Linked DNA regions of Homo sapiens. The protein of the gene in region 4 interacts with the protein of the main gene of each other region in a pairwise test. Each region holds a gene or a part of one and is shown on either strand. Other genes may lie near its edges. The genes, in order: TRIM72, DCPH1, ABI2 and PPP3CA.

Evidence for each region.
Region 1: the proteins of PPP3CA (region 4) and TRIM72 interact in binary tests that used the Homo sapiens proteins (3 or more experiments, as listed by UniProt).
Region 2: the proteins of PPP3CA (region 4) and DCPH1 interact in binary tests that used the Homo sapiens proteins (3 or more experiments, as listed by UniProt).
Region 3: the proteins of PPP3CA (region 4) and ABI2 interact in binary tests that used the Homo sapiens proteins (3 or more experiments, as listed by UniProt).

What each region holds. Positions count from the first base shown.
Region 1 is NC_000016.10:31,209,051-31,217,583, forward strand, and holds the start of TRIM72 (tripartite motif-containing protein 72), read left to right. Parts: upstream 1-5,068; 5' UTR 5,069-5,247; intron 5,248-5,681; 5' UTR 5,682-5,688; coding exon 5,689-6,078; intron 6,079-6,911; exon of another isoform or gene 6,912-7,107; intron 7,108-7,692; exon of another isoform or gene 7,693-7,708; coding exon of another isoform or gene 7,709-7,978; exon of another isoform or gene 7,979-8,085; intron 8,086-8,533. Other genes in the region: PYDC1 (pyrin domain-containing protein 1), read right to left, coding at 7,709-7,978. UniProt on the Homo sapiens protein: Muscle-specific E3 ubiquitin-protein ligase that plays a central role in cell membrane repair by nucleating the assembly of the repair machinery at injury sites.
Region 2 is NC_000006.12:151,462,139-151,469,829, forward strand, and holds part of DCPH1 (damage-control phosphatase ARMT1), read left to right. Parts: intron 1-2,314; coding exon 2,315-2,480; intron 2,481-6,204; coding exon 6,205-6,972; 3' UTR 6,973-7,691. UniProt on the Homo sapiens protein: Metal-dependent phosphatase that shows phosphatase activity against several substrates, including fructose-1-phosphate and fructose-6-phosphate.
Region 3 is NC_000002.12:203,331,112-203,338,802, forward strand, and holds part of ABI2 (abl interactor 2), read left to right. Parts: intron 1-7,691. UniProt on the Homo sapiens protein: Regulator of actin cytoskeleton dynamics underlying cell motility and adhesion. Functions as a component of the WAVE complex, which activates actin nucleating machinery Arp2/3 to drive lamellipodia formation.
Region 4 is NC_000004.12:101,336,836-101,344,526, forward strand, and holds part of PPP3CA (protein phosphatase 3 catalytic subunit alpha), read right to left. Parts: intron 1-7,691. UniProt on the Homo sapiens protein: Calcium-dependent, calmodulin-stimulated protein phosphatase which plays an essential role in the transduction of intracellular Ca(2+)-mediated signals. Many of the substrates contain a PxIxIT motif and/or a LxVP motif.

The DNA.
Region 1 (8,533 bases), on a different chromosome or scaffold from region 4:
TTGCATCTTTACAGAAATACATAGTCTTGATACTAATCCTTACATGATTCTCATTTTATAGGTGAGAAAATCAGGTTAAGCGACTTGCCCAAGGTCACACAACAAGGAAATTCTAGTCAGGACTGGAACCTGGAAGTGACAGTCACTGCTTCCTAAGCCCTTGGGTGCCAGCACACTGTCCCTGTTTATGTGGCATATTTTTTTTTCTTTCTTTTTTTTTTTTTTTTTTTGAGACTGAGTTTTGTTCTTATTGCCCAGGCTGGAGTTCAATGGCTCGATCTCAGCTCACTGCAACCTCTGCCTCCTGAGTTCAAGCAATTCTCCTGCCTCAGCCCCCCAAGTAGCTGGCGTTACAGGCACCAGCCACCATGCCCAGCTAATTTTATAATTTTAGTAGAGATGGGGTTTCACCATGTTGGTCAGGCTGGTCTTGAACTCCTGACCTCAAGTGATCCCCCCACCTCGGCCTCCCAAAGAGCTGGGATTACAGGTGTGAGCCACTGCACCCGGCCTATGTGGCATATTTTTCAGTTTAATCCTCATGACAACTCTATGGGATGGTTTTTTTTTTCTTTTCTTTCTGAGACAGGGTTCAAGCAATTCTCCTGGCTCAGCCTTTGGAGTAGCTGGGACTATGGGACTACAGGCGTGAGCCACTATACTGTTTTGTTTGTTTGTTTGTTTTTGGTAGAGACGGGGGTCTCGCTGTGTTGTCCAGGTTGGTCTTGAACTTCTGGACTCAAGTGATCCTCCCACCTTGGCCTCCCAAAGTGCTGGGATTACAGGTGTGAGCCACCACACCCAGCCAGGATGGTGTTATTTATCCACATATTGTATTTGAACGTGCTGAGGCCCAGAGAGGCAGGTGATTTTCCCAGGGGTGCCCAGCATGAGCTCATGAAGTCAGCATTCAGGACTTGCTTCTGTAGCAGCCCTGACTAGGGCTTTCTGGCCTCTCTCTGCATGTACCCAATAATTAGGAGCTCTTACCTTCCAAGGCACTCATTGCTTGAGCTGTTGGGAAACTTTCCCTTAGGACAAGCTGAAATCTATCCCTAGCTCTTTAGGTCTGAGGGACCTCATAGGGCCAGCTATACCGGTTTACCACTCCCTCCTTCCCTGCACATGGCTTATTGCCTCTTCTTGTTCTCAGTCTGCTTAAGACAATCAATGTTCCTTCCGTGGATCAGAGGCCAGTCCTGGCCCATCTGCAGGGAAGGATTGAATTGACTATCACCCACCTGTCTTAGACACCCACTCCTATAGATGACAGCAGGACCTTCAGTCCCAACTTGGCAATATTGGAAACTCTGGATGAGATTTAAGTTCTGGAAGTTGAGTTTTTGAGCATGAGCAACTTGTGGTTTCAGAGACCAGCTCCAGATATACCCTCTTTCAAACCTCTTCCTATTGCTAACACAAGGCTGCGTCTGAGCCATCAAGAATGGAAGAGAAGAAATCAGGGGCTTTTAGCCAGGCATGGTGGTGAACACCTGCGGTCCCCGTTACTCAGGAGGCTGAGGTGGGAGGATCACTTTAGCCTGGGAGGTCGAGGCTGTAGTGAGCTATGATTATAACATTGCACTCCAGCCTGGGCGACACAGTGAGACCTCAGAGACTTAAGGACAAAGAAGGTGGGGACACAAAACTCCCCTGGATTTCTCAGTGTGCCGGTAAAGAGCGCCAGCTTTGGCCGGGCGCAGTGGCTCATGCCTGTAATCCCAGCACTTTGGGAGGCCGAGGCAGGCGGATCACGAGGTCAGGAGATCGAGACCATCCTGGCCAACATGGTGAAACCCTGTCTCTACTAAAAATACAAAAAATTAGCCAGGCGTGGTGGCAGGCGCCTGTAGTCCCAGCTACTCGGGAGGCTGAGGCAGGAGAATGGCGTGAACCCAGGAGGGCGGAGCTTGCAGTGAGCCGAGATCTCATCACTGCATTCCAGCCTGGGCGACAAAGCGACACTCCGTCTCAAAAAAACAAAAAAACAAAAAAACAAAAAAAAAAAAAGGAAAAGAAAAAAAAAAGAGCACCAGCTTCCTGAGACTTTTCACATCTTAATTTCAGAATTTTATCTGCAGTCATTTATACAGGTAATTGCTCTTATCCAAAAGAATAATAGAACTTTTTTTCCTCCTAAAAGAACCAAATGTTTACAGCCTGAACGAGGGCCTAGGTTAAACAAGGTGTCAGGCAGCCTGAAGTAGCTACCTTCTTAAGCAGGCCAGCAGAAGTTCATGCTGTCACCACATAACATGCAAGAAGGAATGAGCGGTCGGGTGTGGTGGCTCATGCCTGGAATCCCAGCACTTTGGGAGGCCGAGGCGGGTGGATCACCTGAGGTCAGGAGTTCGAGACCAGCCTGGACAACATGGTGAAACCCCGTCTCTACTAAAAATACAAAAATTAGCTGGGCGTGGTGGCACGTGCCTATAATCCCAGCTACTCGGGAGGCTGAGGCAGGAGAATCGCTTGAACCTGGGAAGTGGAGGTTGCAGTAAGCCGAGATTGTACCACTGCACTCCAGCCTGGGCGACAGAGCAAGACTCCATTTCAAAAAAAAAAAAAAAAAGAAAAAGAAAAAATTAAGAACCTAAGAGACAGGCAAAGGGAGAGTCCAAAGGGGAGATTAAGAGAGTGAAACAGAAACAAAAATTCATTCTGAGAGAGACAGCAGTTGAGAGAGGAAAGAGTAAAACCAGGAAAAGGTTTGAGGGAAGCTAAGAGAAAGATGGAGAGGCCAAATGAGAGGGACTGAGTTTGCGTGTTTATTCATTCACCTAGTATCTGTAGAGCGCCTAATGTGTGTCACACACTTTAGTCTAAGCTGGAGACAAGCAGTAAACACAATTTCTATTCCGTAGGAAGAGACAGACAAGAAACCAGCAAACAAGTAGAATACATTGCATGTCAGATGCTGATAAATGTTATGGAGAAAAGGAAAGCCAGGCAGTGAGATGTTGGGGAGTTAGGAGATTTAAAATCAGGGAATTGGGAGAGGTCTTGCTGGAAAGGTAATATTGAGCAAAGTCTGAGGGAGGAAAAAGAGGATGCCATGCAGTACCTGGGTTGGAGAGTGTTCCAGGCAGAGGGGACCGTAAGTGCAAAGTCCCTGATGCCGAGTGATCAATGGGGAAAGGGGTGATAAAAGAGTCAGAGTGATTAATGGGGTCATAGCAGATAGGGCTTTGTAAGCCACAGTTAGCACTTTGGTTTTTATTCTAGATGAAATTTCTTTCTTTTCTTTTTTTTAATATTTATTGTTTTTTTTGAGACGGAGTTTTGCTCTTGTTGCCCATGCTGGAGTGCAATGGCATGATCTTGGCTCACTGCAACCTCTGCTTCCCAGGTTCAAGCAATCCTCCCATCTCAGCCTCCCGAGCAGCTGGGACTACAGGTGTTCTTCACCATGCCCAGCTATTTTTTTTGAGTTGGAGTTTCGCTCTTGTCACCCAGGCTGGAGTCCAGTGGTGCGATCTCGGTTCACTGCAACCTCTGCCTCCCGGGTTCAAGCGATTCTCCTGCCTCAGCCTCCCAAGTAGCTGGGATTACAGGTACCTGCCACCACACCCGGCTGAGTTTTGTATGTTTCATAGAGACGAAGTTTAACCATGTTGGCCAGGCTGGTCTCAAACTCCTGACCTCAAGTGATCCACCCGCCTGGGCCCCCCAAAGTGCTGGGATTACAGGTGTGAGCCATTGTGCCTGGCCCTTGCCAACTTTTTAATGGGGTTGTTTTCTGCTTGTTGAAATGTTTAGTTTCTTTATATATTCTGGATAGTAGATCTTTGTTGGATGCATAGTTTGTGAATATTTTCTTCCATTCTTTTTTTTTGAGACGGAGTCTCACTCTGTACCCCAGGCTGGAGTGCAGTGGCGCGATCTCGGCTCACTGCAAGCTCCGTCTCCCGGGTTCACACCATTCTCCTGCCTCAGCCTCCTGAGTAGCTGGGATTACAGGTGCCCGCCACTGCGCCCGGCTAATTTTTTGTATTTTTAGTAGAGACGGGGTTTCACTGTGGTCTCGATCTCCTGACCTCATGATCCACCCGCCTTGGCCTCCCAAGAGTGCTGGGATTACAGGCGTGAGCCACCGCGCCTGGCCTTTCTTCCATTCTTCAGTTGTCTGTCTGTTGATAGTTGCTTTTGCTTTTGCTGTGCAGAAGCTCTTTAGTTTAATGAGGTCCCACTTAACAATTTTTGTTTTTGTTGCTTTTGAGGACTTAGTCAAGAATTCTTTACCAAGGCTGATATCCAGAATAGTATTTCTCCTGCGGTTTCTTCTATGATTTTTATGGTTTGAAGTCTTACATTTAAATCTTTAACCCATCTTGAGTTAATTTTTTTTATATGGTGAAAGGTAGGGGTCCAGTTTCATTCTCTTGCATAAGGCTAGCCAGTTATCCCAGCGCCACTTAAATGAAATTTCAGCTGAGATTTGAAAGATACACATACAGGAACCAGGGCAGAATTGAGTTCTGGGCTGCAGGCTCTGGATTCAGTTCATTCATTTGTTCAATGTCTCTCTATCATTCATTCTCCAAGCATTTAGAGAGGCCTACTTTGTCCCAGGCTTGTCCTGGGTGTACTAGAGAGACCAAAGTGGAAAAGACCCTCCCCTCAGCTCTGGAGGAAGAAAACATTTCAGGGTGGGGTGAGGTCCTGCCCTCCTGCAGGTGGGGTAATCCTGCCAGGGTGACCTTGGTCAGCCATAAACTTGGGGAATGAGTGGGTGACAGGCTGGGGAGGGGCTGCCAGCAAGGAGGAAGGAGCTGGAGAGTGTGGAGGTGGGAGTGGGGGGAGAAAGGGCAGACCCCCTTCAATTTTCTGTCTTTTCTGTGGTGTGAAAGGCCCTGGCTCCCCGCTGGCTCTGAGCTCTGACTCCAGGCAGGCCGGGGAGAGAACAGTGGATGGGCCAAGACAGGTGGCCCTGTCATGTGATGTGTGCCCAGGGACTACTCAGCCCTCACTTTTAGAACGGTTTCCGGAAGTGATGGGAGGGATTGGGCAGGGCAGCTAAATATAGTCCTGGGGCCATGGCTCAGTCTGGGAGGGTCTTCCGCTGAGCACTGTGTGCCCATCACGCGTGGTGTCCACTGCCAGCTGCCCCTGTGAGTCCCTGTCCTTGCTTGGAGCCTGCTGCTTGTCTCAGATCCTTGGACCCAGCCCTGACCCCAGTCCAGCTAAGCTCAACCCTGACCGGTCCTCCTTCGAGACTCTTTCAGCCTAAGATCTCCAACCAGACCTGTGAGTCCCGTGGGCTGGAGAGAGGGGGAGGGGAGGTCTGGGTATCTTGGTAAAGTGAGGGAGGGGAGTCTCGGAGTGGGGGCTCTGGAGAATTTGGGTCCGGGACTAAGGTCAGAGGCTGAGGCCTGGGGCTAAGGCGAGGGCAAGGACAGTGGGCTAGAATCTGGGCTTGTGTTCAGGAACTGGGGTTGACTGATAGGGCATATTTTTGGGGTTGGAGCTGAGAATTGCAGTGGAGGCTGCTTTTGGGCCTGAGACCGAGTTCCTCTTTCCCCTTGGCCGTCAGAGTCCCATCCAGTGTAGGATGTGAGGTCTTTACAGGCTGGGGCTTCTCCCTGCGGGGCGGCGGGCCCGGCCTGGGCTAGGGCTGGGCCAGGGCTGGGCCGGGAGCGCGGCGCCGCGGGGTCCCCCTAACCTACTCCTCCTCCACCCAGGCCCGCCATGTCGGCTGCGCCCGGCCTCCTGCACCAGGAGCTGTCCTGCCCGCTGTGCCTGCAGCTGTTCGACGCGCCCGTGACAGCCGAGTGCGGCCACAGTTTCTGCCGCGCCTGCCTAGGCCGCGTGGCCGGGGAGCCGGCGGCGGATGGCACCGTTCTCTGCCCCTGCTGCCAGGCCCCCACGCGGCCGCAGGCACTCAGCACCAACCTGCAGCTGGCGCGCCTGGTGGAGGGGCTGGCCCAGGTGCCGCAGGGCCACTGCGAGGAGCACCTGGACCCGCTGAGCATCTACTGCGAGCAGGACCGCGCGCTGGTGTGCGGAGTGTGCGCCTCACTCGGCTCGCACCGCGGTCATCGCCTCCTGCCTGCCGCCGAGGCCCACGCACGCCTCAAGGTGCGGGATCCGCGCGCATCGTGGTCGGAGGGGCTGTTCGGTGGCACGGGGCCGATGGGGAGGTCGCTGCAGTGATTTGGATTCTGAGTCTCTAGAGAGGCTCACGAGCTCCTGGAGTTGCGGGGGGCGGGGGCGGGGCGAAGCAGCCAGGAAAGAGGGTCTGAGGAGCTTAAGGCGGGGCTGGCAGAGGAAAGCCGCGCAGGGATGGAGCCTGGCGATAAGGGCGCTGAGCAAACGTAGGTTTCCCGGCCTTAGTCCCTAGAGGAAACTGGAGATGGGCGGGCGGAGCCCCAGGGCGGGTCTGATGGGCCGGGCGGAGCCAGGCGGAGCAGGGACTGACCAGCCCCTGCGGCCCACGCTCGCATTCCTGCACCCGGTGGGCCGTTCGGGCTGGCTCCCTGCTCGGCGCTGGCCCACTTTGGACTGGAGGCGCGGCGTTCGGGACCGAGCCAGGCGGCCGGGGCAGGGTTGTCCCCTTGTGCTCAGCGGAGGCCCACGCACCCCTGAAGCTGCGGAACTTGGGCTGGCCTGACGGTCCCCAGGCGGGGCCTCACCAGAAGGGAGACTGTAAGGGCTAGGCAGCCGGGATCTGCACTTATGTGTGCGGGCCCAGGGTGGCACCGAGAGCCCCGTCCAGGATGTTTTTCTGGGTGGAGCTGGAAGTCCCGAAAGCCTTGGGAGCCCACACGCAGTTGTGCGCGTCCCGAAGTACCCAGCAGAGACACCCAGACAGAGGCAAATAGAGACGAACGCACACTGGCTGGTGCGTGTCATCCGTGTGGCAAAAGCACACACGTATAGCTACCGGCGGGCACGTGTGCGCGCAGCCCCAGTAAAGTCTGCCATGAATATTTATTGGGCAGTGGAAGAATAAATGACAGGTGCAGGGGCTGGAGGAGGCGGGGTCTGGAGGCACGGAGGCGTCCTTGGTCCCCGAGGTGGAGACACTGCTGTTGTCTTACGCGACTGGTGCGCGCGTGGGGCTGGCTTCACAGGCGTTGCATTACTCCTTTTGCCTTGACCCGCCTCCTAGAAGGGGTAGACCACCGTCCTTTCGTTGGTATTCGAGGCCCCCAGACTTCCCAGGGACCCAGCCTCTCAGTCCTGCCTGGCCCAGTTCAGCCCAGTCCTAGCTGGTGGTCTCCTAGCTCAGGGCAGGAGCCTCCTCCCGGGACCCCTCCCATCCCAGCACACCTGTGCTTAAGACCCCAACCTCAGGGCAACCCGCTCGGATCCCCTTCCATGCTGTGGAAGCTTTGTTCTTTTGCTCTTTGCAATAAATCTTGCTGCCGCTAAAAAAAAAACAAAAAACAAACAAACAAAAAAAACCCAACCTCGCCCAACCTTGCCCGTCTTTATCTGCGAAGAAAGCACAGAACCCATGAAACGGAACAGGGCCCAGGCAGCCCAGGAGCCTGGAAGGGGGCAGTGGGGCGAGATGCAGCCCACCAGGGTTCGCGGCAGCCCAGCCCTTCGCCCCCGGGAGGGGCTGGCCGGAGGTCTGAGGGAGGACCCCAGGAGGGACCCTGAAGGAGGGGAACAGGAAGGCTCTGGGCGGGACCTGACGCGTGGGTCCTTGGCGAGGAAGCGGGGTTGGGTCCCGAGATCACGTACCAGCTCAGAGTGGCCCTCACGCAGCCCGCTGCAGCCGTGCGGCCTCCTCCAACATGCGCATGTCGCGCAGCACGGCCACGACGAGCTCGGCTGCGTAGTCCTCGTAGTAGGAGGCGACCAGCTTGTCGGTGAGGTCCACGATATCTAGCTGCCCGAGCGCGCCCCGCGGGATGCGCTCAAAGCCCTCGCGCAGCGGCACCGTCCCCAGCTTCATCTTGAACTTCTTGAGCTCCTCCGGTGTCAGGTTCTCCAGCACCTTCAGGATGGCCTCGCGCTTCGTTCCCATGGCTCAGCCCTGCGCCTCTGAGCCTCCGAGGGCCTGGAGCCATCAGGTCCTACCTTTCCTGCAGCAGGTGGAGCTGCCGCCCCCGGGGATGTCCCGGGAAGGAGACTGATCTGGCAGCTCCTATTCAACCCTGTGGCTCCTGCTGGGAGGGGACTCTGCAAACACCGCCTAGAGGGTCCCCCAGTTTCCCCTGGGAGAGTGGGGGCGCCAAATTGTTGAGGTGGGGATTGCTGTTCCCAATCTGCAGAGGAGGAAACAGGTTGCAAGTCATTGAGGCAGGAATGGAACTGATTCCATGGTCAGGCACCTCCCAGCAAAGAAGTGGCTTTGTAGCCTGGCATGGTTGCTCATGCTTGTAGTGCCAGCTACTCGGGAGGCTGAAGCAAAAGGATTGCTTGAGCCTAGGAGTTCGAGTTGTGATTCTGCCACTGCACTCCAGCCTAGGCAATCCTGTCTCCAAAAAAAAAAAAAAAAAAAAAAAAAATGGCTTTGGCAGGAGTATTGGGAGCTCTCCTATATTTGCATATTTGCATTTGAGGTCTTGGGTAAGATCTA
Region 2 (7,691 bases), on a different chromosome or scaffold from region 4:
TTAGGTAAATACACTTCAGATATTGAAAGATGAAAGTACAGAGAAAATATTAGATTTTTAGAAAAACTTTTTAATAAAGTGTAATATACATATAGAAAAATGTGCATGTCTTATGTGTTCAAGAACATACTTGTGTACCCAGTGCCCAGATCAAGAGACGGAACCTTACAGACCCCAAAAGTCCACTTTGAGTCCCTTTCCAGTCACTGCCTTCATTACTCCTCAAGGATAACCATTGTTCTGACCTGTGTTAGTTTTGCCTGTTTTTTAACTTTACTGAAATGAAATGATACAGTGTATAGTTTTGTGTCTGGCTTCTTTCACTCATTTTTATGTTTGTGAGACTCATCCATATGTTACAATATAATTATAGATCATTCATTCTCATTGCTTTATAATATTGCATTTTATGAGCATATTACAATCTGTTTACTTCGTTGTGATGGATATTTGAGTACTTTTCAGTTTGGAGTTGTTAGGAAGAATGCTGCTATAAACATTCTGACACTTTTTTGCTGAACATATGTATGAATACATCTGTTGGATATATCCCTCCCTAGAAGTGAATCACTGGGTCATAGTGTGTGTACATACACAGCTTTAGTAGATTCTAAAATAGAAAACATTCTAAAATGAGAATTTATATATAGTTATGTGAGTTTACTCTCTTAAATACGAAAATAAGGCTCATTCTTAATATGAGATGTGACTTTAATGAATGGTTTGTTAATAAAACATTAGAACATGTTTTATTAGAACTTTCTGTAAAGGGCCAGGTAGTAAATCTTTTAGGCATAGGGGCCATGTGGTCTCTGTTGCAGCTGCCGAACCTGCCATTGTCGTGTGAATGCAACCTTAAATAATATGTAAGAATGAGCATGGCTGTGTTCTAAAGAAACTTTATTCAGCGGACACCGAAATTTGAATTTCATGTGTTACAAAATACTACTTTTCTTTCACTTTGTTTTCAGCCATTCAAAAATATAAAAACCACTCTTAGCATGTGAGTCAGACAGAACAGGTGGTGGGCCGGATTGGGTCTGTGCATCCGAATGATTTTTATCCTTTTAAGTCACCTTGAGAGACTGACTGATTTCAGCGGTGCTGCCATTGCTAAAACCATCTTTGAATTATTTGGAACTTCTTTCAGAGCCAGTTTACATGCCTCAAAATGAAAATTAGTCTTCCTGTATTTTTACTCATTTTTGATTAAAAAAAAAGTTTTTATCCAATTTGATCACACACCTCATTCTACTGAAATCACTCCGAGTGACTTTTGGCTGTTTCCAAAAATAAATTGACTCCAAAGGATGAAGATATGTGATCACTGACAGGAGGTTTAATGATGTGCCATAGGTTCTGAAGAAAATTCCTAAAGAGGAATTCCAAAAGTGCTCTGAGCAATGGCAGCGCCCTTGGAATAAGGGTGTAGCTTCCCGAGGTGACTGACTGGCTGGAAGGAGGCAGCCATCATTTGGATGTTTAAATACTGGTATGTTATTTAAAAAAACAAAACAAAACAAATCAAGCCGATTACATCAGTGTTAGATTGTTTTTACCCTAACATGAATGACCCATGGAAAAAGTAGCTAATTTGGAAGACCCAATAATCTGAATGTCTTTTATATTCAATTCAGTAAAGATTATTATATTAGTATTTATATCTCCTTAGTTATGATTTTCTTAGGCCAATATAATATGATTTAATCTCTCACTGGAAAACATGAAGGTGTAGCCATGCCACATATATCACCTTTGGTTAAAGTTGCCCAAAAATACCTAAAATTAGTGATAAAAAATTATCATTCTTCTAAAACTTACAATAGTATTGTCTGATTTATCTTAAGTACTCATTGTATTTCCATCATACTCTGTGTTTCATTCTGTTAATGATTGCTGCATTGTATTCAAATATTCTGTTTATATTCTATACATTTGTTACTGGAACTCTGCCACATCGGTGGTTAAAAAATGTTTGTTGAACTAAAGCAGTTGTCTTGAAATTTATCTTTCTCCTTCTTGTGCCCTGGAATCCCTGCTAGGTAGATAATTATGAGCATAGTCACTATCACTATTTAATATGTCCAGAAAAATACTTGATTTGGGAACTTTTTTGACAATTAAAATGAGTTTGAGAGATTTTTGTGTAATTTGATTATTTAGTATTAAGTTTTTCTAGTTAATTAGATAAATGTTATATCTAGTTTCTGTTAGCACTGATTATTGAGACTGTATGGTGCTATTTTCTTTCAAGAACTGCAGTTATCCAAATGTACAAACTAAAATGTTTCACTTTGTTTTTCTCCTACTTTAGTCCACCAATCGATTACTTTGATGTATTTAAAGAATCAAAAGAGCAAAATTTCTATGGGTCACAGGAATCCATCATTGCTTTATGTACTCACCTGCAACAATTGATAAGAACTATTGAAGACCTAGATGAAAATCAGCTGAAAGATGAGTTTTTTAAACTTCTGCAGGTAAATGTGATCATTAATCTTCTGAGTATGTTTTATTTAAACAGAAAATAAACTGCTATACAGTTAACAAAACATGTAAATATTTTTCTTTGCTATAATTGATGATTTTTTATCTAGTGGTGTTAAAAGATGAAAATCCATTTAATTGCTAGAAATGGGTTTGAAATATTTTTCTGCTCTCACTGGCTATGATTTTAGTGGCAAAGAAGTTATCTGACTTCCTAGCTTCTGTCATACTTGAGAGAATACTTCATAGTAATTTGCTTAGCTTTTGTCATGCTTGAAAGAATTCTTAATAGTAATTTGGTCTCCCAGCTGACTTGGGTGTGTGTTGGCTCTGTGGCTAATTTGTGTTTGGACCTGAGGCCTGTCACTTAATTTCTCTGGGCCTCAGTTTCCTCCTCTGTTCAGTGAGGATAATGTGTACTGTGTAATTTGATGTGAGAATTCAACTAGATGCTTGCATGTGAAGTGCTGAGCACAGAGCCTGGGATACAGCCTGCTGTTAGCATCGGTAGGTGATAATACTCGGGTATTCAGTTGGCCCATTAATACAGTTTCATTACATTTCTTTATCTTGTATTCAGTTTAGTTTTTAATTCATGCAAACATCCTGAAATTTACAACACATTATTAGAATCAGAACTATTAGGAGACGTGGTACACAGCAGTATCCCCAGCCCTCACATTTTCCAGAAAAAGTGAGGAAGACTTTCAAAAAGAAATGTTAGAAAGTGCTATGAAGAGAAATAAAGCAGGAAAAGGGCGTTGGGAATGTTGGAGAAGGGATCAGGGCTGCCAGGGAAGGGTCCATGGAGGCTGAGGCCACAGACCTGAAGGCAGGGAAGGAGTAAGTCAGGTGTATGTCTGCGGAGTACATGGAGAGGTGAGAAAAATTGCAAGGAAACCCTGTAGTTACTGAGAGGTAGCGGGGTGGAAGGGACACAGAACGGCTTGTATTAAATAAATTTTTACTAAAAGTGAAACAGAAGCCATCAGAGGGTTTTGAACAGAGAGGTAATGCTATTTGACTATTTCAAGGAATGTTTCTGAGAATAGACTGCAGGGGCTGAAGGTGGAAATGGGGAGAGCTGGTCTGAAAATGACTTGGGGAGGGAGGTTGGGGCCAAGTTGGTAGCATAAGAGTTAGTGACATCACCAGAGCCTGGGTGTTCTTTGAACATAGAAGCTACAGAACTTGCTAACAGATTATACCTGGAGACGAAGCCCTGGTGAGACCCCGAGGGCAAGCAAAGTCACAAATAAAGGCATATTTTGAGTTCAAAACAAAAATTGTCAGGACATTGTTTTGTTTTTTGAGACAGAGTCTCGCTCTGTTGCCCAGGTTGTAGTGCAGTGGCACGATCTCAGCTCACTGCAACCTCCGTCTCCCGGGTTTAAGCAATTCTCCTGCCTCAGCCTCCTGAGTAGCTGGAATTACAGGCGTATGCCACCACACCTGGCTAATTTTTGTATTTTTAGTAGAGACTGGGTTTCGCCATGTTGGCCAGGCTGGTCTTGAACTCCTGACCTCAGGTGATCTGCCCACCTTGGCCTCCCAAAGTGCTGGGATTATAGGCATGAGCCACCTTGCCTGGCCCAGGACATTGTTAACTAATAAACCTTGTTTTTTGTTTTTTCCTGTTAACTCTGCCTTATGCTTAGCCTTGGAATTAAAAAAAAAAAGACTGGCATGCTAGTTCTTGACTCCTAGCTAGCCCATTCTTTCAGGGAATCATCTTCTTTGAATGTGTTCTTTGTCCCATAGTATAATAAACTATGAAGAAGAATGAGCATGCATCTATTTTCTGTCATCTGATTTAGCTAACAACTTCTTCACACTGTCACTGTGCTCCCAAGTGAAGGGGGCCAGAGTTGCCTCCATTTGGTGTCCGCAGTGAGCAACAGGTTAACGTTTCAAGGGAAGCTTGAAAACATTCTCGTTTTCAGAGAATGTTGATCTCTTTCAAAAGTCATAGCACTCTCCCACTGTCGACACACACATTTCTGGGGCTACTGTGTCAAATGCCATTCTAGGTGCTGGGCACGTAGTGGTAAAACAAGAACAGGCTGATCCTCCCTATCAAAACTTGTAATCTTGAGGGAATATAGACAATGAAGTAATTGCACAAAGAGCTATGCCATTACAAACTGGAAGACGGTGTGAAGGGAAAGTGCAGGAGGCTAGCACAGAACCTGCTCTCAGTCGCTGAAGGCCATCGTGGACACCATTGTATGAATTTCTTCAGGAAACTCTAGAAAAAGGTGACCTTGGACACTTTAGTTATTATTTAAGCCTTTTTTTTAAAAAAAATTTATTCATTTATCTCTTTTTAAAATAATACTGTTCGGCCGGGCATGGTGGCTCACACCTGTAATCCCAGCACTCTGGGAGGCCGAGGTGGGCAGATCACCTGAGGCCAGGAGTTTGAGACCAGCCTGGCTAACATGGTAAAACCCCATCTCTACTAAAAATACAAAAAATTAGCCAGGCGTGGTGGTGGGCGGCTGTAATCCCAGCTACTTGGGAGGCTGAGGCAGGAGAAAAGCTTGAACCCGTGAGGCAGAGGTGCAGTGAGCCAAGATCGCACCACCGCACTCCAGCCTCGGTGACAGAGGAGACTCTATCTCAAAAAAAAAAAAAACAAAACCCTATTGGTTGGAACATGCATTCTCCTTATTTTAAATCACAAATGAGGGCCTGACAAGGTGGCTCATGCTTATAATCTCAGCATTTTGGGAGGCCACGGCAGGAGGATTGCTGGAGGCCAGGAGATGGAAATTAGCCTGGTCAACATAGTGAGACCCCATCTTTATTAAAAAAAAAATCACAAATGAGAGTAGAGTCTGTTTTGGCTAGTGTTTATTGAGTACTTCTATATGCCAGGTATTTGGTACATTATTTACATGCATTATATCAATTCTCACAATAATTCTGTGAGGTAAGTACTAGTATCTCGTTTTTCAGTTGCAGGACTTGAGCCTTAGAGAGCTTAAGTAATTTGTTGATGATCATAAACTGAAGATGCTGAGTTTGAACCCAGGTCGAGCTGGAAGTCCTAAACGTGTAATTTTATGGCTTAAAAAAAAATAGGCCTACATACTGTTTTTCTACAAAATGTAATTGAGTATTAATTCAATTTAAAGCTGAATAAGATAATTGATTACAATGGGTCTTTAGTTAACATGACCTTGTTTAAAAAGTAGCGTCTTTAGATATCACTTTGTTCAGTTTTTTAAATTTTACAAATGAGAGAACCAAATCCCAGAGAGGTGTCACGTCCTAAGGTTATGCAATTAGTGAAAGAAACTGGACAGTTCTGCAGGGCCAAGGAGGAAAAAATAAACTTTTATTTCTTCTCTTGACTCTGGATTATATGGGCAACTTTGAGCCTCTCTTCACACATCCGATGATGTTCTAATATCTGCAAGCTGCAAAAACTTTTATTCTGAATAAACAATGTGAGTGCTGAAATAATTGAAACCAGTTTTTTTAAGTCCATTACATACTGATGAATTAAAAATTTCAGTTTTATCTTGTTAATACAGCATCATGTGAAATAATTTTTGTGCATTGTTAGAGAAAGTATAGATTTGATGGTCATGTAAAGAGTTTTGTAGATATTTAGTAGTTTTTTAGCAATGTCCCCCCATCCCGCTACATAATGGAGTTTTGTTGGCTATTCAGAAGAAGGGTGAATATTTTGTACTTTTTCTTTTTCAGATTTCACTGTGGGGAAATAAGTGTGATCTGTCTCTCTCAGGTGGAGAAAGTAGTTCTCAGAATACCAATGTACTAAATTCATTGGAAGACCTAAAACCTTTCATTTTATTGAATGATATGGAACATCTTTGGTCATTGCTTAGCAATTGCAAGAAAACAAGAGAAAAAGCTTCTGCTACTAGAGTGTATATTGTTCTCGATAATTCTGGATTTGAGCTTGTTACAGATTTAATATTAGCCGACTTCTTGTTGTCCTCTGAACTGGCTACTGAGGTTCATTTTTATGGAAAAACAATTCCATGGTTTGTTTCTGATACTACTATACATGATTTTAATTGGTTAATTGAACAGGTAAAACACAGTAATCATAAGTGGATGTCCAAGTGTGGGGCTGACTGGGAAGAGTATATTAAAATGGGTAAATGGGTTTACCACAATCATATATTTTGGACTCTGCCTCATGAGTACTGTGCAATGCCTCAGGTTGCACCTGACTTATATGCTGAACTACAGAAGGCACATTTAATTTTATTCAAGGGTGATTTGAATTACAGGAAGTTGACAGGTGACAGAAAATGGGAGTTTTCTGTTCCATTTCATCAGGCTCTGAATGGCTTCCATCCTGCACCACTCTGTACCATAAGAACATTAAAAGCTGAAATTCAGGTTGGTCTGCAGCCTGGGCAAGGGGAACAGCTCCTGGCCTCTGAGCCCAGCTGGTGGACCACTGGAAAATATGGAATATTTCAGTACGATGGTCCCCTTTGACTTGATTTAGGAGCTCTCAGTTGCATAGAAAGATCTGGTGAGCACCTTTTCATCCCCAGAAAAGGAGCACGTGAATTGAGTCGCCTGGCGGCTCTGTACGCGCTCAGGGAAGCTTAGCTTCTTGGTGCCCATCTACGTGCACTGGATGATTTTTCTTTTGAACATTTTGCCCCACTACACTGTTTTGGGGATAGCTGGGTTAAGCAAGTTAAAGATATTTACATTTATATTGGAATTTTAGCAACTTTTTTTCAGGTTAAATATATAATTTCAAGTGCTTTTAATGAACTTATTTTTAATTGGCTAGGGAGCAAAAAATAAGTGAGTTCTGCTTTTAGTTAGTTAACCTTGTTCTTTTCTTAAATAGTACACTGCATGGTATTTAATATTCCAGGAAGCATGGGATTTTATTTTGCTTGATTTTGGGCACATGAAATAATAGCTCTAGGAAAATGCGCATCTTAATGACTCTTTGTAAAGAGAGGCATTTCTTACAACTGTGATGTTTGCTTACATAAAAGTTACCTCATAAGTTAATTCTAACTTTTATTCTTGAATTTTATTTCATTTCAATAGCTTGTTTCATTTGCACGCCTTTGTATTTTGATTGACCTGTAGAATGGATGTTAGGAAACTCAAAATTGAACACAGTGAAACAAATGGTATTTGAAGAAATGTAATATCTTTTATATTCTATTTATGATATCCATAATCAAATG
Region 3 (7,691 bases), on a different chromosome or scaffold from region 4:
TTTGATTATCATTTATTTTAGGATGCCTTAGGTATATAATTGGTACACTCTCAGGATGATAGCTCTTATATGATTTGTTGATTTGTTGGGAAAGTTGATAAATAGAACGTGGTGACAGTGGATTTGTGCTGATCCAGCTGTACATTTGGTTGACCAGCAGGGGTTTTGATGCTGCCTGGACCCTGCAGTAGATGAAAGTTAATTCACAGGATCAGTGATCAAATGGTCAATTTAGCCTTTTTTTTTTTTTTTTTTTTCTGAGACAGAGTCTCACTCTGTCGCCCAGGCTAGAGTGTAGTGGCGCGATCTCGATCTCTGCTCACTGCAACCTCCGCCTCCTGGGTTCAAGCGATTCTTCTGCCTCAGCCTTCCAAGTAGCTGGGACTACAGGTGTGTACCACCATGCCTGGCTAATTTTTGTATTTTTAGTAGAGACGGGATTTCCCCATTTTGGCCAGGCTGGTCTGGAACTCCTGGCCTCAGATGATCGACCTGCCTTGGCCTCCCCAAAGTGTTGGGATTACAGGCGTGAGCCACCGCACCTGGCCAATTTAGCCTTATTATAGCATCATGTCTTAGCCACTAGCTCGAGTTAACTAACCCAACACTCATTTTATTGTGTGGAAATGTAATTTTTGCCTATAAAGTAGAAAAAAATCTGTTTATCATGTGTAATAAGTGTTTTTGCTCAGTGTTCTTTTTTTTTTTTTTTTTTTGACACAGAGTTTCACTCTGTCGCCCAGGCTGGAGTGCAGTGGCGCGATCTCAGCTCACTGCAACCTTCGTCCCCCGGGTTCAAGTGATTGTCCTGCCTCAGCCTCCCGAGTAGCTGGGATTACAGGCACGTGCCAACACGCCCAGCTAATTTTTGTATTTTTGGTAGAGATGGGGTTTTGCCATGTTGGCCAGGCTAGTCTCAAACTCCTGACCCCAGATGACCCACCCACCTCGGCCTCCCAAAGTGCTAGGATTACAGGCGTGAGCCACCGTGCCTGGCCCCCTAAGAGTCATTTTTAATAAAAATTTAGATAGTTTCATTATTCTAACCTCTAGAAAATGGGATAGTCAATATTTTTTCTAAAATATGATAAACAGGTATAACTACAGTTTGCTGATATTTATCAGATCAATTTTATTTCTTGCCTATACAAAGGATTTAGTAGTTGGTAGAGACTTTTTTTTGAGATACATGTAAGACCTGCGTTTTTCTTCATTTATTAATATACACACCTAGGCCGGGCACGGTGGCCCACGCCTGTAATCCCAGCACTTTGGGAGGCCGAGGCAGGCACATCACGAGATCAGGAGATCCAGACCATCCTGGCCAACATGGTGAAACCGCGTATCTACTAAAAATACAAAAATTAGCTGGCTATGGTGGCGTGTGCCTGTAGTCCCAGCTACTTGGGAGGCTGAGATGGGAGAATCACTTGAACCTGGGAAGCGGAGGTTGCAGTGAGCCAAGATCATGCCATTGCACTCCAGCCTGGGCGACAGAGCAAGACTCTGTCTCAAAAAAACAAAAATTACACATATAATGCCTAATATGTTTGAAGGTGTCCAGGAATTAAAAATGTTTTGGTTAACTTGGAATCTACGTTTTTACAAATAGAAGAATTTTTATTACAATATAGTTGTCTTAATGTTTTGGTAGATGAAATAACTCCCTATTTGTTACTTCCCTGAAATCTGAAAAGCCAACTTGTTGATATGTACGTTTTTCTTTTTGTTAGATAAAAGTTACTGATTTTTGTGAGTGACAGTTCACATAGATGCATAGTAAAATCTTATTGTTTGGATTAAGAGTAGAATCATCCCATAATATGGATTTATTCAAAAGAGAAGAAATTAAGAACTTACCTTAAATTTTTACCTGAAATATTTTTGAACAATAGGAGACATATTAGTAGCTTTCCTTTTCTTCTCTTAATCAATGTGGATACTCCCAGAGTTCACTAAAAACTTCATGAGAGGTTTACAAGGGAATATTATCAGTCAGTTTCATCAAAAGTAATTACCAAAATGATACAAAGATTTAAAATTTTTATTTAATAAAAATCATTAGAATACATGCTCATTGTTGAAAAATTATTGGAGAATACAAGTAGGTATTATGAAAGAAATGGAAAATTGCCCGATCATCTTGAATATATATCTGGTACTCATACTTTTAAATATTTTTTGTATGCACAACTATATATCAATATTTTTGTAGAAATGGGTTTATGTTCTATATTCTGTACCTTTAAAAGAACCTTTTAAGGATGCTGGGCTTGACTTTTTTTTAAATGGATGTCATATACTATATTGGGAGGAGGTTGGTTATATTTATAGGTCGAGTTCTGTATGTTCTTGCAAATGGGAGAATCTTAGAATACCTAGAATGAAGGAGAAAGAGGTCAGTTGAGAGTAAGGAGACTGAGTAGAATTTGGGAGACTGAATTCCCCATAGATTAAGATGACTCAACTCATTTGAAATTGATCAAGGCTTACCATTCCTCAAGAAATTAGTCCCTAACTCTCAGCAGAGACATTTGGTGAATAGATTTTCAGTGACAAATCAGTCATCTTCAAGACCTTTGACAAGATTGCAAAAACAGGCTAATTTATATTTGAGCCCCTTGCTCTTTTAAACATTTTGTCATTTGTACACTTCCTACACCTTCTTGTCCAAGGAACTTAAGTGACCTCATAATTTCCGTTATTGATCCAGGAAATCCAGTCTCACCTCATTTCACCCTTCCTTGAAGAGCTTCCTGGTTCAAAATTGCTCTTTACCAAAATAATTAATTAATAAACTGTTCATTTATTTTTTCTTTTCTTTTTTCTTTCTTTTTTTTTTTTTTTGAGATGGAGTCTCACTCCTTTGCCCAGGTTAGAGTGCAGTGGCGTGATCTTCGCTCACTACAACCTCCGGCTCCTGGGTTCAAGCAATTCTCCTGCTTCAGCCTCCTGAGTAGTTGGGACTACAGGCATGTGTCAGCATACCCAGCTAATTTTTGTATTTTTAGTAAAGACAGGGTTTCTCCATGTTGGCCAGGCTGGTCTCGAATTCCTGACCTCAAGTGATCCACCCGCCTTGGCCTTCCACAGTGCTGGGATTACAGGTGTGAGCCATCGTGCCCAGCCTCATTTACTTTTTCTTCTTACCTTGGTATGGGTAATGTGAGAATGTATGATAGGTTTACTTTATTTAGAGTCATCTTTTCTCACCCAGAGAATAATATATAAACCAAATTGGTTTACTTATGTGTAAAATATGTAGTAGAGATATTTTTGAGCATGAGGTGCTTTTGGTGTTACTTTTTCTTTTAAAATGCAGGGAATTTAATAGTATGCAGTTTCAGGGTGTGTAAGGTAATCTTTTGGTGGATGAAATATATTTGGTGGATGAATATGCTGTGATTTGCTTACACCCACCCCAAATCCATTTTGCAGCACCCTACTCACTGTCCAGAGATTCTGGGAAAAAAACAATAGAGAAGACAAAGCCAGTCTAGACACCATTTGACTCTACCTTGTGAATATTCTGAAAGTTACATTAGGCTAGTTGTAGATTTTTTTTTTTTTTGAGACAGAGTCTCTGTCGCCCAGGCTGGAGTACAGTGGTGCGATCTCAGCTTACTGCAACCTCTGCCTCCTGGGTTCAAGCAATTCTCCTGTCTCAGCTTCCTGAGTAGCTGGGATTACAGGTGCACGCCACCACGCCTGGCTAATTTTTGTATTTTTAGTAGAGACGGGGTTTCACCGTATTGGCCAGGCTGGTCTCGAGATCCTGACCTTAGGTGATCCGCCCGCCTCGGCCTCCCAAAGTGCTGGGATTACAGCGTAAGCCACCGTGCCTGGCCTAGTTGTAGACTTTTGATAGCTTATGGTTGAATTTTTATGGGATTGGTTAATAGATTGGATTCATGAGGTAGCATGTAGGGCAACACATTCTATTTTGGATTTTTCATTTACTTTGTGTTTCCTTCCAGATACGAAGCTCCTAGAAGATGGAGTCATTTCTTAAAAATTTCTATATTTTCCCATTAGCCGTAGGATGTTCTCCATATACTAGCCACTCATTAAATAGTTGCTGAATGTAAGAAATACAGACTTGAATATGCAAGAGCCTATGCACTGAATTATTTTTATTTTATTACTTTATTTTATTTTATTTTTTGAGACAGGGTCTCACTCTGTCACTCAGGCTGGAGTGTAGTAGCACGATTATGGGTCACTGCAGCTTGCACTCCCAAGCTCAAACAGTCTTCACACTTCAGCTCCCAAAGTAGCTGGGACTACAGGCTTGTGCCACCATGCCCAGCTAATTTTTTTTGTTGTTGTTGTTAGAAATGGGATCTCACTATGTTGCTCCGGCTGGTCTTGGAACACCTGGGCTCAAGCAATTCTCCTGCCTTGGCTTCCCAAAGTGCTGGGATTACACCTGTCAGCCGCCATGCCTGGCCTTGAATTATTTTATAAGTAGGATATAATTACATGTAAATTTACCTTGCAAGTTTTTTCCTATTTGATTTTTTGGTGACATTTATGTTCTGTAAAGTTTTGCAGTACTTTTCATATTTGCATAATTCATGCAAGGAACATAGTTTTGCTTTTTTCTTCTTAAGTAATATACTTTGTAGAAAATTTGGATGAGGTAACAGCTTTGTTTTGAATCATTTACAACATGAATTTTTTCTCATTTGATTTTTAAAGTCAGGTTTATTGAGTTTTAATACATATATGGTACAAGTCACCCTTTTTAGGTGTAAAGGTTTATGAATTACAATAAACTTACATAGTCATGTAACCACCACAATGTAAAATTTTCCTTGTACCCTCTGTAGTCAGTCCTGTCCCTCCACTACTAGCCTTTGGTAAACACTGATATATTTTCTGTCCCTCTAGTTTTTGCCTTTTCCAGAATGCCATATAAGGGGCATTATGTAGTATATAGCCTTTTGTGTTTGACTTCTTGGTACTAGAAGTCCTAATACATTTGAAAATCATCAGTGTTATTGTGTTTTGTCAGTACTTTGTTCCTTCTTATTACTGAGTAATATTCTAGAGTATGAAAGAATCATAATTTGTTCATCCATTCACCAACTGATGGATTTCTGGATTGTTTCTAGTTTTAGGCAGTGGTGAATATGGCTGTAAACATTTGTATACAGGTGTTGGTGCAACCTAAGTCTTCACTCTTTTGGGTAAATTTAAGGGAAAAGATCAACTGTTGTACCCTGGTAACAGTGGATGTATCCACATAGGCTGCATAGGCCAGTGCTTGAACTGCATCTGATCTGAATCTTGGCCGAGCACTTTGTGATCCTCTTGGAATATAAGATTATGGAAGTTTGCGAGGACCTTATGTGAAGCCCTTTCTCAATCTCTTCATCTGCCGAGGAGGCTGTACGTGATAACAGTGCCTCATCACCTCCTAGTTCCCATGAGATGAGGCTCTCTATTGTACCCTTTTAGGTAGTAGCTGCAGGCTGTAAGACTTTAGTTGCAGCATGGCATTGGCTCCTCCGCAACAGAGTGTCATATCTATGTTGTAGTCACCTGGCTCCTTTTGTTTTAGTATTGCTTTACACAAGGGCTGTATCTTTTACTACTATTCCTTCTGCCCTCCATGTAAATGGTAGGCTTTCTGAACCTAACAAGCAGTTGGGCAGGTCTATCACATTGCCTTCTCTTTGCCTTGACAATAAATATCTAATAGTGGGATTATTACCGTATGGTAAATGTGTGTTTAGTTTTATACAAATTGCCAAACTCTTTTCCAAAAACGATGGTACCGTTTTGCGTTCCCACCAGCAAAGATCCAGTTGTTCTTCATCTTTGTCAGCATTTGGTTTTGTCAGGTTTTAAAATTTTAGCTATTCTCTTGTTAGTGATGTCTCAAAGGCCATATATGACAAGCCTACAACTAACATCATACTCAACCATGAAAAGTTGAAACCTTTTCCTCTAAGATCAGGAATAAGACAGTGGTGCCCAGTGTCACTAGTTCTATTTAATCAAGTACTGCAAAGTACTAGAAGTCCTAGCCAGCCAGTTAGGAAAGAAAAATAAACAAAAGGCATCAAAATTGGAAGAAGTTAAATTGTCTCTGTTTGCAAATGACATGATTCCTTATGTATACAAAACCCTAAAGACTCCACCAAAAGACTGTTAGAATTAATTAACGAATTTAGTAAAGTTGTAGGAGACAAGATCAACATACAAAAATCTGTTGTGTTTCTACATATTAACTACAAACGATCTGAAAAATTAAGAAAACATTTCCATTTATAACAGCAGAAAGAATAGAATACTTAGGAATAAATGTAATCAAGGAGGTGAAAGGTCTGTACACTAAAAACTATAAGACATTTATGAAAGTAATTGAAGAACATGCAAATAAATGGGAAGATATCCCGTGCTCATGAATTGGTAGATTTGATATTGTTAACATGTCCATACTACACAAAGCCATCTACAGATTTAATGCAATCTCTATCAATATTCCAATGGTATTTTTCACAAAAATAGAAAAACCCTAAAATTCATAGGAAACCACAAAATACTTTGAATAGCCAAAGCAGTTTTGAATAAGAACAAAGTTGGAGGTATCATACTTCCTGATTTCAAACTATATTACAAAGCTATAGGCCTGGCATGGTGGTTCATGCTTGTTATCCCAGCAGTTTGGGAGGCCTAGGTAGCCAGATCACCTGAGGTCAGGAGTTCAAGACCAGCCTGGCCAGCGTGGAGAAACCTCATCTCTACTAAAAATACAAAAATTATAGGGCATGCTGGCACACGCCTGTAGTCCCAGCTACTCAGGAGGCTGAGTTGGGAGAATCGCTTGAACCCAGGAAGTGGAGGTTGCAGTGAGCTGAGATCATGCCACTGCACTCCATCCTGGGCAACAGAGCGAGACTCTGTCTCAAAAAAAGCTATAGTAATCAAAACAGTGTGTTACTGGCATAAAAGACATGTAGACTAATGGAACAGAATGGAGCCCGGAAATGTAGCCACATCTGTGCAGTCAACTAAGCTTTGATAAAGGCACCAGGTACACAATGGGGAAAGGATAATTCAGTAAATGGTATTGGGAAAACTATATCCACATGCAAAAGAATGAAATTTGATTGTTATATCACACATACAAATTAGCTAGAAATGGATTAAAGACTTAAATGTAAGATCTGAAATTATAAAACTCTTTGGTATGGGTCAGATGTTTGTTCCCTTCAAATCTCTTGTTGAAATGTGATTCCCAGTGTTGGAGGTGGGTCTTGGTGGGAGATAATTGGATTATGGGGGCAGATCCCTCATGAATGATGTAGCACCATCCCTTTAGTGATAAGTGAGTTCTTGCTTGGTTCACGTGAGAACTGGTTGTTTAAAATTAGTCTGGGAGCCCCCCCACCATGTGACATGCTGGCTCCACTTCTGCCATGATTACACCTCACCAGAAGTACGTGCCAGCACTGTGCTTTGTGTAAAGCCTGCAGAACCAAGAGCCGATTAAACCTCTTTTCTTTATAAATTACCCAGCCTCAGGTATTCCTTCATACGATCATAAGAATGGACTGATACACTCCTAGAAGAAAACATAGGGGAAAAAGCTCCTTGATTCTGGTCTTGACAATGGTTTTTATAAATATGACACCAAAAGCACAGGCAACAAAAGCAAGAAAAGATGAGAGTGACTACAT
Region 4 (7,691 bases):
GAGAGGCTGGAGAGGGAGTTCCACATTAGAGATAGCCTAAGCTAGAATTCTGGTGTACCTTCCAATTCTGGGAGTCTCATTTGTAGGCCTAAATTCAGGCATGAGCAAGTGTAAGAGATCAAAGGTCTCCCCTACATCCCCCAATCCTTCTCCCCAGCAAATAGAGGGTTCTGAGCCAGACAGAAAATTAGATTTCCATGGTTCCTTCCAGCTTCAAAATGCCATAATTTTAGGCTTAGACTATTCTTCAGCACACATAAAGTTCACATTTACAACAAAAATAAATAAGAATCATCTATTCTCTCCATTCAGAAGATTCCCATAAACCATCCCAATGTTAAATGCCCCTAACTGGTTAAATTTTTTTAAAAATCACCTAATTCTCTGATGCTTCTAAATATTTTCTCTTCTTTAGTTGACTGGGGTGATGAACAACTTCTGAGTATGATCCACTACAGAAAGAGACTTTCTAATATTTGAAGCCTCTAGTTAAATCACCACTCACCCTTTTTTGTTCAGACTGAATAATCTCTCACTTCCTGTCACAATTTATTTAAAGTCCTTTAATCATCTTGGGGACTGTTTTGTAAAACATACTCCAAAATTTAACACATCCGTTTCTGGAAGGGCACGTGGAACGAGATAGAGTACTCAGGGAGAATTCTGACCAGAGGCGAGGACAACAGAGATTCCCTCCTGGTTGCTGAATGCAAATCAACAGAAGCTAACAGTGAGATTTTATGTAGGAAACTATAGTTTCCTTAGTCTTCAACTCTTTGAAATGAAAGTATTTCTGTGTTAGTGAGACAAAGTATATCCCGGCCCATGTGAGAGACTGGAAATATTCATTCAGAACAAAAATAAAATGGAGCTTGGAAAGGCCCAGCTGGCTTTCTTTAACCAGAAGTCATACAACCACATCTGGGGTAGCGCAGCTTTAGCGGTCTTCTGTAAGGATGGGACTAAGAGCAAGTGCCTCACTATACTGCCACTCTGTTGGTGTGGAGTCCAGTACTGAGCTTTTCTAAAAACACTCACCATGCAGACATGCCATCAGGAGAGGTGACTCATGAGCAGCCTGTACTCGTGATGGGCCTGAAGATTTTTTATTGGTATATACACAGTAAGTTATCACCTATCGGGGTGTACAGTATGTTTTAATCTCTGTTCTAATTCCTAATCTTATACATTTTTATTCATTTGAATTTGCACATTGTGAAGACTAATATGGGCCTCCCATATGCTTGTCAAATGGCTCTCCCCTCAATTTAGTATCATCACCTGTCTTCCTGAGAAAGAAACCATCACTCACCTTTGAGGAAATCAACCTATACACCTTGTGACAATAATCCATTAAAAGTCAAGCACTCCCTATGGGAAGGCCACTTCTGCCAGTTATGCTTCTGCATGCTGGCTACCGAGCAAAATCCATATAATGCCAGTTAATAAAATACAGCACTTCAAAAACTCACAGGAAAACACACTTCTACAAAGACTGGAGCTTACAAGTCAAGACTCATCAGACATTTGTGTACTGATCACGATTTAAGATTGACAAAATTTCAAAACATAAAGGAACCCCATAATTTAGAAATTTAAATCCATCTTATCCTTTGTTATTTCATTCCTGTAACAACTATGTATCAAATGCCTATTCTACAGCAGGCCCTGTGCTAGAGCTAAAGACACAAAAGTAGATAGAACTTCTGTCTCTAGGACTTTCCACCTCCTGGGGAGGAGAGGCAGACAAGGAAACAAGTCATCACAGCAACATGCTCTTATCAAGGTGTCCTCTGTGAGAAGGAAGAGGCTCAATTCCTTTATTCTAAGTGAAGGTGTCAGGAGATGCAGGTCTCAAAGGAGGTAACTTCTGAACTGAAGCTCGAAAGAAGAGAACTGAATGATCAGGAGAACATTTGTTATCCCAATAATCAGGCCCAGCAGAACAGGAATGTGTGTAACTTTAATAGCATTAAATATACATGAACCAACAATGCCAGATTTATCATTTTTTAAAATCAAATTCCTTTGTAAAAAGCAAACAAAAAATAAAACAAACTTGAATTCCTGACTCAGGTTCCATCTTTTTAAGAATATATCTTGCTTTTAATTTAACTTGATAAAACAGCATAACTTACAAGATGTTTTAAAAACAAATGTCAACGGATGGCTCAAAGCCCACTTGTGAGAATCTAAGGAGACAGCAGCGTTAGTGCCACCTTTTTCTTAACTTTTCATAGCCCATGTATCTTTCCACTGGATGGCATCCAATGACATTTTGGGGGCCAGAGAAGGGAAGGAGGTCATGTTGGAGAAGGCAGCATTTCTGGATTACAGAAGCATTATAGGAAATGATATATTGAGATGTAAACAGGGAAAGAGGTTTTTTCCAATTTGTTCTTTTTCATGAAATTTACCAGGTCATTTTATCTTCAAGTCCAAATCTAGACAATAACTAAAATACACAAATCATCCAATAATCAAACACTCAGTGATTAACATATTTTTTCTCATTTGTCAGAAATTGACCAGCCTAAAGGGGAATACAATAAAAACTGAAAGACAGCTGTCAGGTTCAAGCAAATAAATTAAATTGAATAGAACTTAGCCTTTTACATTCAGCAGGGACAAAGTGAGTTCAAGTGACCGAACAGAACAGCTCTCATTCTAATTGTGTAACCTTATTAATGCCTCCTTCTCATACTCCATGCCCTGATTGGGCTGGAGAAAGAAGCACTCCAATTCGCCAGTCACCATACAGAACCAGTTACAAATGGAACTTAATATAATACACTCAAAATAAAAACAATTTAGAAGGCTTCAGGAGGCACATGAGAATTTTACAATATCCATCTCATTCAAAAGAATTTATTCAGTGCATTTAATAAGCAAGGCATTGAGCTAGGGACCAATAAGACAATGACCATTTTTTCCAAACTAAAACTCTGAATACAAATATTAACAATTTTATGCAACTTCCAAGTATATGCAGCAACCAAGACACATAGTTTAGACACTGACATACTAGAATTTCCAAAACATTCTGATATTACATAGAAAGAACTGGACATTTTAAATAAAAACTACTACTAATTCTTCCCCAAAGAAAGGAAAACTGGGACAATAAAATCACCACAGAAAGACTCTAAGTCTAAGAATCTTAGAGCTGATGAAAATTTTTTTAATTTAGCTCCATATAAATAAAACTCTCTCTTTGAACATCAACCATCATTCTTCCGGTTTCACAGTTGTCAAAAGTACCTGAAATTGACAAACATTGTAAACTAGTATGTCATAATATTGAGATAGCTTTTATAAATCCCTGATATCTATTTGTTTCCCTCTTTTGCAGACAGACACAAGCAAAATTTCCAGTTGCAAGAGACAGAAGTTCACAGACAGGTAGACCATTTTTTAAAATAGAGTCATAGTATATTTTGCTGTGAGACAAAAGCATGGATAAGGAAAACAAAAAGGACAGCAAAGTTCTATTCCTCTCTATGATGGTCTCAAAAAGAATCTACCTGAATTCCAAAAACATAGCATTTTAATAATTTATTGCCACTTTGTCAGTGAGGGCTTTTATTTTTTTAATATCTAAAGCTTCCACTACCCGAGTGCATATTTGTTAAAACGGATTTGAGATACCAGCAACTGGGCTAGGTCATAAAGTTGATAACCCATCTGATTTAAGCCATTATTCAGAACCCCTAACCATGGAGGAATACACAATTGTTATTTCACTTCTCATATGAAATATAATTGATGGATTCATATAAAAGATGGAATTATTGTAAAATAAAATGATTTTAAAATGCTGAAAATGTCAAGAGTACTAAAGACTTAATTTACAAACTGAAATCCTATTTCATTGCCTACATCAGTCCTACCTAATGACTGCTTTAAAAATAGGAATGCAACACCTCAGAATCACTGGCTGATATTTTCACCTGAGCCTGCTCTAGAAATTAACAAAATCATCAAATCTGAAGATTTTGTTTGTCAAACCAGAGCATCAGTGTGGGTCATTAAGTGGAGTTCAGAAAAACAGGCTTAAGACAACATCCTTCAAAATGAAAGTAAATAACATTCTTTTGCAGGAGAGTATACTATTCTATTTCTGTGTATATATTTACCTGAACAGAAAGCAATGTTTAACAGTATTTCTTTATAAACCTCAGGCCAAGGTCAGACTAAATTATAATATTTATCACCAGAATTTGATGTCTGCTAAAAACAGAAATATAAAAAGCTTCCTCTCCTAATCAAACTATTTTACATAGTTAATTATTTAGTAAAACAAAATGCGAAATGAAATGTGAAGATATCTTAAATATACCAAAAGAAGTGGCCATTTTCTTTTTTTCTTTTTCTTTTTTTTTTTTTTAAGAGATATGGTCTTGCTATGTTGCCCAAGCTTCCACCTCAGCATCCCAAAGTGCTAGGATTATAGGTGTGAGCCACCACACCTGGCCAGTGGCAATTTTCAAAAATGTTTTCAAGCAAGAAAAGCCTCTTTAATAAAGAAAATAATGTGTTTACACTTACCTGTAACCATTCTATCTATTCTGTCTCCACTTCTTTAACTATAAAAATAAATGTCATCATAAGCTACTCTTGACCCAAGGCACTCATGGCTTTCAATGCTAATGGTTCTGACTATTCTCAGGTGACCAGAAAATACATAACACGTGTCATTTCTAATTCTGTGTTAGCAGTGACTGAATCGCCATTACCAGGCAGTGGACAAAGTGTTAACCACACACTCCCCATTTCCCATTTGATTATCCTTCGGTCCTCACAAGTTGACAGTGGATACAATTACTCCCCTTTTATGTATAGAGAAAGTTAGCCTGTGAAGTTATAACATATACCAGTGGAATTACAGAAAGCTGAAGTTCAAGGTCTCACCATATCCCTCTTGTATATCAAGAGACTGCTACATCAGAAAGTTGCTGGAAAAAAATTGACAAAATGATTTTTAGTAATTATCAAAATTCTATATCATGAATCACCACCATTCTTCATAGTTCTAGAAGTATTCAAAATGGTAATTTAACCATATTTGCTAAAAGGAGAGTGAGTATCTGCAAAAATGCTGTTTTCCAATGAGGTCACCCTAAATGGATTCTTTATTTGGTGTCATAATTAGTTTCAAATTTACACATAGCTGACACAAAAAAAGATAAGGAAAAGCATGAGAGGCCAATTACAAAAGTTATAAATGAATGGTCTATCAAAATTATATTTCATCTCGCTAAAATTACAAATAAAACAAAGAGACAAATAGATTTTAAAAGGCATATTTTTAAACAAATCTTAGAGTAAACCTCATTAATTAGATTCTAGATGTTAATTTTTTCCTATTTTAACTGGATGTCTTAAGATAAACTGTCCATTTAAAATAAGGGTTCTATCCCACACTTCTCAGAAAAACTATTATCTTCAAAATGTTGATTATTCTAATTGATGGCATTTTAGAATCACTGGAATTCCCCTGAATCCCAGTCTCAATTGTTGCATTAATCATTAAATTTACTGAATGTTTTTACAACAATGCACTTGTGTTATATTCACTTTATAATAGTCCCAAAAGGAAATGTTAATAAATAGACCAACCTAACTCGTAACGAACAGGATGAATTTGCATACTGTTCACTAAGTATTGAAAAGAATTTGTTCTCTTGGTATATTAACAATGCTGGAACTATGTTGTTTATACTTTTTGGTTATCGGACCCCTTTCTTCACATCCAATGCTGATGTAAACTTCAGCCAACAAACACTGGTGTTTTTTCACAATAAATTTAAATTCATGATATTGAATTAATAAAGTTTCACTATACTCAAATTGAAAACCAGATACATGAAACTCAACTGATGGTAACAAAATGTCAGTAAAATAAATTCACAAGCTCTTCCTGGAACACCACAAATAAATGACATTATTTACTACTCTGTTGCATCAAGGTCTAAACACGACAGTTACTACGAATGTGACATATTTGTTTTCTTTTTAAGTAGTATTATCAGTCTCACCCAGCTAGAAATACTAGTGGCTGGAATCCTTATTTACTTAATAATACTTAACTAGCATCTTCTTGCTTCTATGATCTTAGCATCTTTCAGAATTCTCCTATGTGTACTCTGTCTACATGAAGTACGTAAGCTGGCAATACACCTGAAAAACAGCTCATTCTCTATGGCCAAAAGCAACCTTACACAAAGCACAACAACGCATTATCTATAGTTTCTGAGAGATTCCACAAAACTCTTCTCAGAAATTTATCCCTCAACAGCCTCCCATAGTTTCTAAAATTTCTACCATTACCATCGGTTTGAGTTAAGGTAGAAGTCCCATCACAAAATACTTGGAGATGGGAACAGAGGGAAGGTAGGTTAAGAGATTTAACAAAGCCAAATACTCATTATCACATAGGGTTTAATTTCCTCTAAGTATTTTTAACTATCACATAGCAAAGTTCCATGACCAATAGGGAATGCTAGGGCCAGACAAAGCATTCTAGGCAGGAACAGAGAGAAATGAAGAAAAGCCAAAGTTTGAGACAAGGCCTGTAGAGTATCACTAAGAGAAAAATCAGGACGGGGGTCAAGGGGAGGAAGACAGTTATTCTTCTATTTATTGCCCTCGGTTTGCTGTATGTATCTTTAAAAATATAATGTAAAGCAATAAACGGACCATATTATTTTGATTTCCAGCAAAGGTCATTACCAAGATGTTTTCTCTGAATTTTTCTACTTTCCATTGTTTTAATCCAAGAAGAGTCAAAATGATACAGCACTAGTTTTGCTAACTGAAGTAACTTTCTCTCCTGGGATAATCTAAACAAATACTTTTCATCTCCACTGCCATCATTCTCTTTCATTTTTAAGGTTTAGAAAACCGATCAGGGTCTCTGAATACATGCTAGCAGATTCTATAAACCTCAAAAATAACATAGTTGAGACAGACTCAACCTACGTCTCTAAAGCTGCATTCTAAAAGTACAATTAAGAAAACAGTCACATCATATTACTACAAACCACAAGCACATCTTTATTTGTAAATAGCAATTTCTTATACAACAAAAGCCAGATGACACTAATAAATATAACTGTAAGCAAATGCCATGGCATGCCATGGTAATAACAATCTGAATATTTATTTTTGTATGTATATATAGTAAATAATACTACACATACTTCGTAAAAAAGAGAAAACTTATGGAGCACAAATACTTCCTCAAAGATAATTTCTTTTCTGTATTAAAGAATGAGTTAAATAGCCATTGAGATGAAGTTCTAACAAAATTTCAAGTAAATAATGGTTTCTAAACTCCATATTATCTAATTTTTGCAAATTAAATCACTTGTTAATATGTTTCACATCCAGCATACGCGTACTTTCCATTCATTCAGTACGTGTATACATACTCAAGGGGAAATATTATTTCACAGAAAGCTAATAATCAAAATAGATTATCTCAAATAACTAATAATAAAAATCTTATGTATGACAAAAGGTTGAATCCAACCTTGTATAATGCCTTTCATGCCAATAATATTCTACAAGAAAACAGGATAAACAATAACAGTGTATCCACCTTAAAATCAGGATTCATCAACAAAACTTCTATAAACAAAATTTCACATTTCACATCTCACATCAGGATCTCTATCAAAACAAATGCA